Homo sapiens: one gene and its partners. The protein of the gene in region 2 interacts with the protein of the main gene of each other region in a biochemical or structural test. Each region holds a gene or a part of one and is shown on either strand. Other genes may lie near its edges. The genes, in order: TLK1, STK40 and COP1.

Region 1 (3,653 bases), on a different chromosome or scaffold from region 2:
TTATTATTTAATTCGGCATCTTTACATTTGTTTACGTTTCTCTCAACTGCAAATAGCACCAGGTACAGTCTGTGTTTGTATACGTTTTGATAAATTTTAACTTCTTGTAATAGATTTGTGTACATTTTATGGCAGTAAATGGTAAAACAGACAAGTATCTACATATATTTCACGCCTTCGTGACATACCTTTTTCTTAATTTTTTCAGTATTTTTTTTTTCGAGACGGAGTCTTGCTCTGTCGCCCAGGCAGGAGTGCAGTGGTATGATCTCAGCTCACTGCAACCTCTGCCTCCTGGATTCAAACAATTCCCCTGCCTCAGCCTCCCAAGTAGCTGGGATTCCAGGCATGGCCACCATGCCCAGCTAACTTTTGTACTTTTAGTATTTTTAGCAGAGACGAGGTTTCACCACGTTGGCCAGGCTGGTCTCGAACTCCTGACCTCAAGTGATCCGCCCGCCTCAGCCTCTCAGAATGCTTGGATTACAGGCGTGAGCCACCGTGTCCAGCCAATTTTTTCAATATTTCTAGGCTACATGGTTCGTCAGTGAGATTTTTCAAATTGTTGCAAATCTCCAAAAAATTTTCCAATGTATTTATCGGAAAAAAAAAAGCCACATAAAAGTGGACCCATGCATTTCAAACCTATATTATTCAAGGTCAGCTGTACATAGCTAAACAACTAATATGACTGTAGACATAAACCAATTTTTGGACCACAGATTTCCATGAGAAATACATTCCATGTTCCTATAGAACAATGCCATTATTGTATCTCCTTCCAGTACAGCCCCTGAAACATAAGCTCTTTGTCCCTCGAACATCTGTAAAAGGGAAATTTCCTTGTCCTTCCCTATACTAGTGAAGCCAGAGTGAGAGAGAAACAAATAATGAGAATGTCCTGCAGACGAAGAATAATTTATTGTTTAGAACATGGTTTTCAAGCTATCTTCCATGGAATCTAAGATTCTACCAAGATGCTTTGTTTTTGTTGGTTTTATTAGAATAAGATTTTGTTGTTAAAAAAAAAAATGAGCCTTGTTGCTAAAAGAAAAAAGTCCAAAGACTTTGAGAATATTGACTTTCAGGGGGTTACCAGTTTGAATAGTTTTCTTAAAATATGAAGAAAAAATTCATGACATTATTATCTTATCCATGTTCCTAGGAAATGCCACAAGCCAAATTTAAAATTTGAAAGTGGCTTTAAAAGAATACATGAATATGACTAATCCCTGCTCATTAAAAGTGAAATCTATACAGACAGTGGCATCGTGTGTAAGTGGTTATGATGTGCTCAGTTTGTGTGAATACTGTTCTGGAAAACCTGAAGTCACATTTATGTTTGTAGTCACAATCCTGTTTCAATGAAGTTGAACGCAGTTATCTTTCTTCCATTAAAATGTCACTCTTTATGCTAAACTAATTTTCTCTGAGAACTAAGTTTGTTTTGAAATTTTATAGTTTATGTTCTCCACTTTGGTGAATTTAACAAGTTTGAAAATTCACACTGAAGTAGTTTTTGTGAACACGTAGGTATACTGAGGGGATGACAGTCATTTAGATTTATATCTATGAATCTGTGATTATATCTAAATTTAAATCTAGACATATCAAGTCTTTAAAAGGGATTTCTGAAAGTCAAGTCCAAAGAATATGCCAAATTTATCTCCCATTCACAGCCAACAAAACATCCATCTTCCACAAAAACCACCAGCCAGGTGCAGTGGCTCACGCCTGTAATCCAAGCACTTTGGGAGAGGCAGATCACTTGATACCAGGAGTTCAAGACCAGCCTGGGCAACAAATTAAGACCTGGTCTCTACAAAAAGTTTAGATTAGCTGGGCATAGTGGTGCGTACCTGTGGTCTCAGTTACTCAAGAGTAAGTGGGCAGATCGCTTGAGCCTAGGAGTTTGAGGCTGCAATGAACTAAGATTACACCACTGCACAGGGCAAGACCCTGTCTCAAAATAAAATGAAAATTCCTGCAACCATATAACCTCCACAGAGAGGGCTTGATGCTTGCAGTTTTTGCTTGCAATAGTTAAAATATTATATTAACATAAGTATTTATATTTATGATGAACATCACGCTAACATTGTAGAAGAAAACCCATGAATGAATTCTTCCTGTTAGGAGTTTCTGACTGGCAGGTACTGAAGTCACTTGTTAATGCCAGGTCATTCTCTCTCCAGTATGCTGTTATTTGCAGTTAAGAACAGATGAGAAAAGAGGAATGACCACAGAAGTCTCCCTCTCAACTGAGAGCTTAATATCAGTACCTTTACCACAGTAATCTTAATGGCTACATGGAAATAAAAAAAAAAACACTAAATTATTATAAAAGCACTGGGCACCAATCTAGACATTCTGATGTTTTTAGTAATACACTTACCAGTAAGTGCCTGCCCCCTGGGAAGTTAGATCCATTCCATCTACACCATAGCTATCATCATCCATAATCTTGGACAGACCAAAATCAGTGATTTTGATTTCACCACATGCTGTTCCATCTACCAGTAGGATGTTTCCTAAGAATAAAATATAAGATTCTTTTAATGATACATACATGAAAAACATAACTTTAATAACTTTTAATTTTACTAGTATTTTACTGATGTCTTACAAGAGAAACCAAAAAACATGTTTTCAGATAACTTAATGAATGACTTTTAAAAACTATACTCAAGTTTAAAAAAAATTAGACAAATTTCATAATTACCTGGCTTAAGATCATAATGTATAATAGGGGGTTTGATCTCATTGAGATATCTTAGTGCATTTACAATCTGCATTACAATAGACCGAGCTTCTTTCTCTGACATTAACTTGTGTTGCTTCAGATAGAAATCCAAGTCATTGCCTTCACAGTATTCTAACACTGTACAAAACCTACAACAGAGAAGAGAAAAAAATTAGACATAAGTAATATCCAAGAATTCAGAATCACAATGGGGAAATGGAGAGTATTTATATCATCAACACAGGATGGGGAAAGAGAAAGCAAGCATATCTTTCCTTAAAAATTGAACCTTAATATTCACTTACGTATCTGTATCCAAGGAGAAATAATCATAGAGTTTAACTATTCTGGGGTGATCCAGTTCTTTGTGTATTCTATACTCTCTGCAGGCATGTCTATGAGAAGACAGTGTATTAATTCTCCATGATCATTCAAAAAATATTCAATTTTAAAAAACCATAAAGTATTAGTATTTACTTGTGGTAGTTTTCTTTCTTCTCATCTCTCCAGCTTTTATTAAGCTGATGTATCTTCACAGCAGCATATCTTTGTTCATAAAGGTCAAAAGCCTAGGATTTCAAGTCAAAAACAATTAAGATGAAAGACCAATTGAATAGCTGAAGAGATGTTTTTTATTTTGGTGATAATTTTTGCAATAATATGGAATTAGGACAAACCCTACAATTATTAATGATCTTCTCTGCTAAGACTATATATAGCTCAATGACACTTTTATTATCAGAAGACAGAAATTCCATGGTAATAAATCAGAGAAAACCTTAATGTGAATTTTCACATTAAATTTTATAAATGCCAATATACTGAATAAAAATAAAACAATAAAGCTATTATTTGTTTTTAATATGGACTTATTCCTCTATACTAGTAGTAAGCAGCCAGGAAAACAGAT
Region 2 (3,653 bases):
ACTCAGGAGGCTGAGACAGGAGAATCTCTTGAACCTGGGAGGCGGAGGTTGCGGTGAACCAAAATTGCATCATTGCACTCCAGCCTGGGCAACAAGAGCGAAACTCTGTCTCAAAAAAAAAGCTTATTTGGCTCTGCCATCAGACAGATCTGTGTTCTACTTCTATCCCTGCTGGTCACTAGGGATTACTTATTCTCTCCACCACAGCTTTCTCATCTGTAAAATGGGGACAATAAGAGTACCTTCGTAATAGGGCAGTTGTGAGGAGTAAGTAAGATGTTACAGGATGAGTACTTAACAGACACTGAGTAGTAAATGTTAGCTCTTATTACAGGCTACAGGAAAGAACTTTTAGGAATTAGTTGCAGCAATTCATGGCAACTAGAACTATGTCCCATTGAGCTGTCAGAAGTGTCCTGAGGGATCACAAGATCACAGAGTTTTATTTTATTCTTTCTGAAAAGAAAATCTAAGGGGAGTTTACCCAGTCTGTATGGGAGCCATGCAGATGATTCAGTTTGGCTCTTTAAAAGAACTATTTTTAAAAATAGAAGTAGGACTGCTGAGAAAAAAATAGTACTTTAAAGTATACATGGGTTGGCCAGGCGCGGTGGCTAACGCCTGTAATCCCTGCACTTTGGGAGGCCGAGATGGGCAGATCGCTTGAGCCTAGGAGTTCAAGACCAGTCTGGGCAACATGGCGAAACCCGTCTCTACAAAAAATACAAAAATTAGCTGGGCATGGTCATACGCACCTGTAGTCCCAGCTACTAGGGAGGCTGAGGTGGAAGGATCTCTTGAGCCCAGGAGATCAAGGGTGCAGTGAGCCGAGATTGCACCACTGCATTCCAGTTTAGGTGACACAGTGAGACCCTGTCTCAAAAAAAAAAAAGTATACATGGGAGTAAATGTATTTAGAATTTCTTCTCTGTGTGTCCCTGCTAGCAACCCTAGTCTGGTACCTGAATAAGCAGCATCAAGAGGCATCACACACACTGATGAGTGTGGTAGCTCAAAATACAGAGCCCTGATTCCACATACATGAGCTCCCATGTGTGGCTGGGGCTCTGCTGGGTCCTGGGGGCAGGAGGAGGATGGAGAGGCAGGCCCTACCATGGAGGAGGTTGTGATCTAGGGGCAGGCTCCTAACCAGTTAACATGTGCACAGTTTGGCAAGTCTCTCACAGAAGTCTATAGCATGTGGGGGAACCCAGTGGAAGAAGTGATCGAGCTCTAGGATGAGGAGGAGACTGGGGAGAACTTCAGAGAGCCCTTAGAACTTGAACTGGGACTGGGCACAGCAGCTCACACCTGTAATCCCAACACTTTGGGAGGCCGAGGCAGGAGGATCGCTTGAGCCCAGAAATTGAAGACCAGCCTGGCCAACATAGTGGGACCCCATCTCTACAAAAATTAAAAAAGAAAAAAATTAGTTAAGCGTGGTGGCATGTACCTGTAGTTCCAGCTACTTGGAAGGCTGAAGTGGGAGGATCACTTGAACCTGGGAGTTCCCAACTCCCAGTAAGCTGTAATCACACCACTGCACTCGAGCCTGGACAACAGAGTGAGACCCTGTCTCAAAAAAAGAACTTGAATTGGATCGTGAAGAATGAATAGAGTTTTCTGGGGGTCTATGAAGCCCTCCAGGCAGGGGGAGCAGCCTGGCACAAGCACGGATATGTGGTAATTTGTGTGGCACTTTAGGAACCACAGGAGTTCTAGCCCAGAGTGTGAAGGGACTGACTGCAGGATGTGCCTGAGAGGTAGGCAGGCACTAGGGCGCAGATGCTTGAATTTTGTATTCTGTTGGTGATGGATGCCTTGCATTAAGTGGAGGAAACATACCATTAGACCTGCATCTGCTTTGGAGGATGGAGTGGGTTGGGGAGAGGTTGGAGTCCCCATAGGAGGCTGTTGCAGTAATCCCAGCAAGGGCTGAGAGGGGCTTGGATCAGGGCAGAGGCAATAGGGTTGAGAAGAAGAGCAGAGATGAGCTGTTTGGGGGGAAATCAACTGGACTCTGGGAGTGTTTGGAAGTGATGCCAGAGGGAGGAGGAATGGTGACAGGTAACCTTGAGGTCCTTGGTTTGGGTGACAGAGTGAATGATAGTGCAGAGATAGGGATGGCTCAAGGAGAAGATAATGGCCAGTGAAATCTGCCAGCTTCGTTCAGTAAACCCTGGGCACACCCTCTCGGGAGAGGATCAGTTGGAAGGTCTTGTAGACCCCTGTCTGGACTTGGGCCAGGCTTCCCTTTGCTTTCGCCTGAATCAGCACCTGGGAGAAGGGCAGCTTTCCTTCCTTCACCTTTCCTCTGCCCAGATTTAACCAGGGAGGTGAACCTCTTCATGTTTCACATCTATAAAGCGATAAATCTTCAGCCTTCCAATAGCCCTAAGAGCAACCCTTCCCTCTGGCAATATCCACCCCGATTCAGCATACTACAGCCCACTGATGGGGTCCTGAACAGCAGAGACCCTCAGGGGAGAGAGGCTTTCTCAGTGCCCCCTGGAGATCTTATCTAGAGAGAGGTCTGGAAATTGGATTTGCTGCCTGAAGCTGGCTCAGCAGATTCAGTCCTTCTTCTCAGGAAGGACTGATATCTGCCAGAGGCCACCCAGGACTTGCTCAGAACCTTCAGGGAAGGGAGAGAAAGCTGCCCAGTGTCCTTGACCCTTGAAGTTCTAAGGGAGCCAGAAGCTGTCCCTCAGCTGGATTGGACTATAGTGAGGGGTGTGCTGGTGGGCGGGCCTTCAAACAGGCCCTTTGGAATTTGGGAGATTTTTTTACATGATTTGTCCTTGGGTTTGTGGTGTAAAGAAAGTAAACGAGAAAATGATCTGAAACAAGAGCACTTCTTTCTCCTCCACCTGCTCAGGTGAGACTCTGACCTCGAAGGTAGTCGAGGGCCCACAGCAGCCCCCGCATATCCTCCCAGGCTCTGTAATCAAGATCCTAGAGGGGAAAGGATGCAATTGCTTGCTGTGATTTACTTACTATCTTAGAGATAGTTCCACTTTGGCACATGCAGGTCTGGGTCATTTGTGGCTATGATGTGTCCCACTGTGAGTGTAATTTATTCAACAAGCTCTCTGCTAACAAACACTTGGGTTATTTTCTGCATTCTACTCTCTAAACACTTCTGCTGAAGTGACTTTCTTCATACATATGATTTTGCCCACCTTAGGTATCATCTGCAGGATAAATTTCTAGAAGTGAATTGCTGCCTCAAAGACTATCCTTTATTATTATTATTGTTAAAGAATTTCTAGGTCTCCTTTTAATAAATTGGGGCAGCCTTATTTTTCCCCCAGCAAGTGAATCTGTTCTTTTGGGTTGAGGTCGTACGTCCTGAGGGGAACACAGGTGTTCCCACTCCCTAAAGAGGCTACAACCCAGGCCGGGCGCGGTGGCTCACACCTGTAATCCCAGCACTTTAGGAGGCCGAGGCAGGCAGATCACGAGGTCAGGAGATCAAGACCATCCTGGCTAACACGGTAAAACCCTGTATCTACTAAAAATACAAAAAATTAGCCGGACGTGGTGGTGGGCACCTGTAGTCCCAGCTACTCGGGAGGCTGAGGCAGGGAATGGCGTGAACCCAGGAGGCGGAGCTTGCAGTGACTGCCCTCCAGCCTGGGTGAGAGAGCGAG
Region 3 (3,653 bases), about 140 Mb from region 2:
ATTTGATCCTGTCATTATGATGTTAACTGGTTATTTTGCTCGTTAGTTGATGCAGTTTCTTCCTAGCCTCGATGGGCTTTACAATTTGGCATGATTTTGCAGTGGCTGGTATGGGTTGTTCCTTTCCATGTTTAGTGCTTCCTTCAGGAGCTCTTTTAGGGCAGGCCTGGTGGTGACAGATTCTCTCAGCATTTGTTTGTCTGTAAAGTATTTTATTTCTCCTTCACTTATGAAGCTTAGTTTGGCTGGATATGAAATTCTGGGTTGAAAATTCTTTTCTTTAGGAATGTTGAATATTGGCCCCCACTCTCTTCTGGCTTGTAGAGTTTCTGCCCAGAGATCCCCTCTTAGTCTGATGGGCTTCCCTTTGTGGTTAACCCGACCTTTCTCTCTGGCTGCCCTTAACATTTTTTCCTTCATTTCAACTTTGGTGAATCTGACAATTATGTGTCTTGGAGTTGCTCTTCTCGAGGAGTATCTTTGTGGCGTTCTCTATATTTCCTGAATCTGAAAGTTGGCCTGCCTTGCTAGATTGGGGAAGTTCTCCTGGATAATATCCTGCAGAGTGTTTTCCAACTTGGTTCCATTCTCCCCATCACTTTCAGGTACACCAATCAGACGTAGATTTGGTCTTTTCACATAGTCGCATATTTCTTGGAGGCTTTGCTCATTTCTTTTTATTCTTTTTTCTCTAAACTTCCCTTCTCGCTTCATTTCATTCATTTCATCTTCCATCACTGATACCCTTTCTTCCAGTTCATCTCATCGGCTCCTGAGGGTTCTGCATTCTTCACGTAGTTCTCGAGCCTTGGCTTTCAGCTCCATCAGCTCCTTTAAGCACTTCTCTGTATTGGTTATTCTAGTTATACATTCGTCTAAATTTTTTTCAAAGTTTTCAACTTCTTTGCCTTTGGTTTAAGTTTCCTCCTGTAGCTCAGAGTAGTTTGATCATCTGAAACCTTCTTCTCTCAACTCGTCAAAGCCATTCTCCATCCAGCTTTGTTCCGTTGCTGGTGAGGAGCTGCGTTCCTTTGGAGGAGGAGAGGCACTCTGCTTTTTAGAGTTTCCAGTTTTTCTGCTTTGTTTTTTCCCCATCTTTGTGGTTTTATCTACTTTTGGTCTTTGATGGTGGTGATATACAGATGGGTTTTTGGTGTGGATGTCCTTTCTGTTTGTTAGTTTTCCTTCTAACAGACAGGACCCTCAGCTGCAGGTCTGTTGTAGTTTGCTAGAGGTCCACTCCAGACCCTGTTTGCCTGGGTCCCAGCAGCGGTGGCTGCAGAACAGCGGCTTTTCGTGAACCGCAAGTCCTGTTCTCTGATCGTTCCTCTGGAAGTTTTGTCTCAGAGGAGTACCCGGCGGTGTGAGGTGTCAGTTTGCCCCTACTGGGTGGTGCCTCCTAGTTAGGCTGCTTGGGGGTCAGGGGTCAGGGACCCACTTGAGGAGGCAGTCTGCCCGTTCTCAGATCTCCAGCTGCATGCTGGGAGAACCACTGCTCTCTTCAAAGCTGTCAGACAGGGACATTTAAGTCTGCAGAGGTTACTGCTGTCTTTTTGTCTGTGCCTGCCCCCAGAGGTGGAGCCTACAGAGGCAGGCAGGCCTCCTTGAGCTGTGGTGGGCTCCATCCAGTTCGAGCTTCCCAGCTGCTTTGTTTACCTAAGCAAGCCTGGGCAATGGCAGGTGCCCCTCCCCCAGCCTCGCTGCCGCCTTGCAGTTTGATCTCAGACTGCTGTGCTTGCAGTCAGCGAGACTCCGTGGGCGTAGGACCCTCCGAGCCAGGTGCGGGATATAATCTCCTGGTCCGCCATTTTTTAAGCCTGTCGGTAAAGCGCAGTATTAGGGTGGGAGTGACCCAATTTTCCAGGTGCCGTCTGTCACTCCTTTCTTTGACTAGGAAAGGGAACTCCCTGACCCCTTGCGCTTCCCGAGTGAGGCAATGCCTCACCCTGCTTTGGCTCGCGCACGGTGCGCTGCACCCACTCTCCTGCACCCACTGTCTGGCACTCCCTAGTGAGATGAACCTGGTACCTCAGATGGAAATGCAAAATCACCCGTCTTCTGCGTCGCTCACTCTGGGAGCTGTAGACTGGAGCTGTTCCTATTTGGCCATCTTGCCTCCACCTCCCATTGTACATTTTTAAATAACTGAAAATGTATAATTAGATTGTAACACAAAGGATAAATGCTTGAGGTAGGTGCGCCATTCTCCATGATGTGATTATTATGCATTGCATGCCTGTATCAAAACATCTCATATTCCACATAAGTGTATATACCAACTATAATACTCAAAAAAAATTAAAAATGTTCAAAAAGTCTAGCACATACGATTACGTATACTACACAATACTTGATAAAGATAATAAATAACTATATACTTGTTTATTATTTACTTTTTACCATTATTATAGACTGTACTTCTTACACTTGTTTTTTTAAGTTACTATACAACAGCCTCAGGCAGGCCCTTCAGGAGACATTCCAGAAAAAGGTACTGTTATCAGAGAAGATGACATCTCTATGCATATCATTACCCTTGAAGACTTTTCAGTGAGACAAAACGTGGAGGTGAAAACAGTGATATTGATTATCCTGACCCTGTGTAGACCTAGGCTAACTTTCTGTTTCTTAGTTTTTAACAAAAAAGTTTAAAAAGCTTTTTCCTATTTTAATTTTTTAACTTATAAGGAAATGTAAAAAGGAAATACTTTTGTCCAGCTGTACAATGTATGTGTTTTAAGCTAAGTGTTATTACAAGAGTCAAAAAGCTTTAAAAATTTTTTAAGTTTATAAAGTCAGAAAATCACTGTAAGGTAAGGTTGATTTATTTCTGAAGGGAGAACACTTTTTTACAGTAAATTTAGTGTAGCCTAGGTATACTGTTAACGTCTTAGGCCTTCATGTTCATTTACCACTCACTAACTCACCCAAAACAATTTTCAGTCCTGCAAACTCCATTCATCATAAGTCCCCTGTATGGGTGTGTACCATTTTTTACCTTTTATATCTTATTTTTACTGTAGCTTTTCTATATTTAGATACGTAAATATTTACCATTGTTACAGTTTCCTACAGCATTCAGTACAGTAACATGATACATAGGTTTGTAGCATAGGAGCACAATAGGCTATTCCACATAACCTAAGTGTGTAGTAGTCTATACCATCTAGGTTTGTGAAAGTACACTGTATGCTCACACAGTGATGAAATTGCTGAATGATACATTTCTCAGAATGTATCTCCATTGTTAAGTATGTATTATTGTACTTACTGTTCAGCATCTCAAATCCAAAATCTGAAATGCTCCAATGAAGAAGCATTTGGAGCTTTGATTGAAATGTTGGCACTCCAAAAGCAAGGATTTGGGATTTTTTGATTTCAGATGTGCAACCTATTAATAATTATATTAAATGTAAGTATGTTGAATGTTGTAACATTCAGGGATTGGCAGAATGGGTTTACAAAAAAAAAAAAATTAGAATCCAGCTTTATGCTGTCTACAAGAGATAGACTTTAGATTCACAGACACAAATAGGTTAAAGTAACAGGATGGAAAAAGATATACCATGTAAGTAGTAGTCAAGAAAAATGGTAGAATGGCTATATTTAGGTCGAACAGAATATACTTAGAGTAGAAATCAGTACTAGAAACA

What was found.
Region 1: the proteins of STK40 (region 2) and TLK1 form a complex in vitro, tested with the Homo sapiens proteins (one large-scale study listed by BioGRID).
Region 3: the proteins of STK40 (region 2) and COP1 interact in a test that uses a peptide from one of them, tested with the Homo sapiens proteins (one study listed by BioGRID).

What each region holds. Positions count from the first base shown.
Region 1 is NC_000002.12:171,003,752-171,007,404, forward strand, and holds part of TLK1 (serine/threonine-protein kinase tousled-like 1), read right to left. Parts: intron 3,313-3,653; coding exon 3,221-3,312; intron 3,139-3,220; coding exon 3,049-3,138; intron 2,893-3,048; coding exon 2,723-2,892; intron 2,532-2,722; coding exon 2,396-2,531; intron 1-2,395. UniProt on the Homo sapiens protein: Rapidly and transiently inhibited by phosphorylation following the generation of DNA double-stranded breaks during S-phase. This is cell cycle checkpoint and ATM-pathway dependent and appears to regulate processes involved in chromatin assembly.
Region 2 is NC_000001.11:36,379,425-36,383,077, reverse strand, and holds part of STK40 (serine/threonine-protein kinase 40), read left to right. Parts: intron 1-3,653. UniProt on the Homo sapiens protein: May be a negative regulator of NF-kappa-B and p53-mediated gene transcription.
Region 3 is NC_000001.11:175,990,729-175,994,381, reverse strand, and holds part of COP1 (E3 ubiquitin-protein ligase COP1), read left to right. Parts: intron 1-3,653. UniProt on the Homo sapiens protein: E3 ubiquitin-protein ligase that mediates ubiquitination and subsequent proteasomal degradation of target proteins.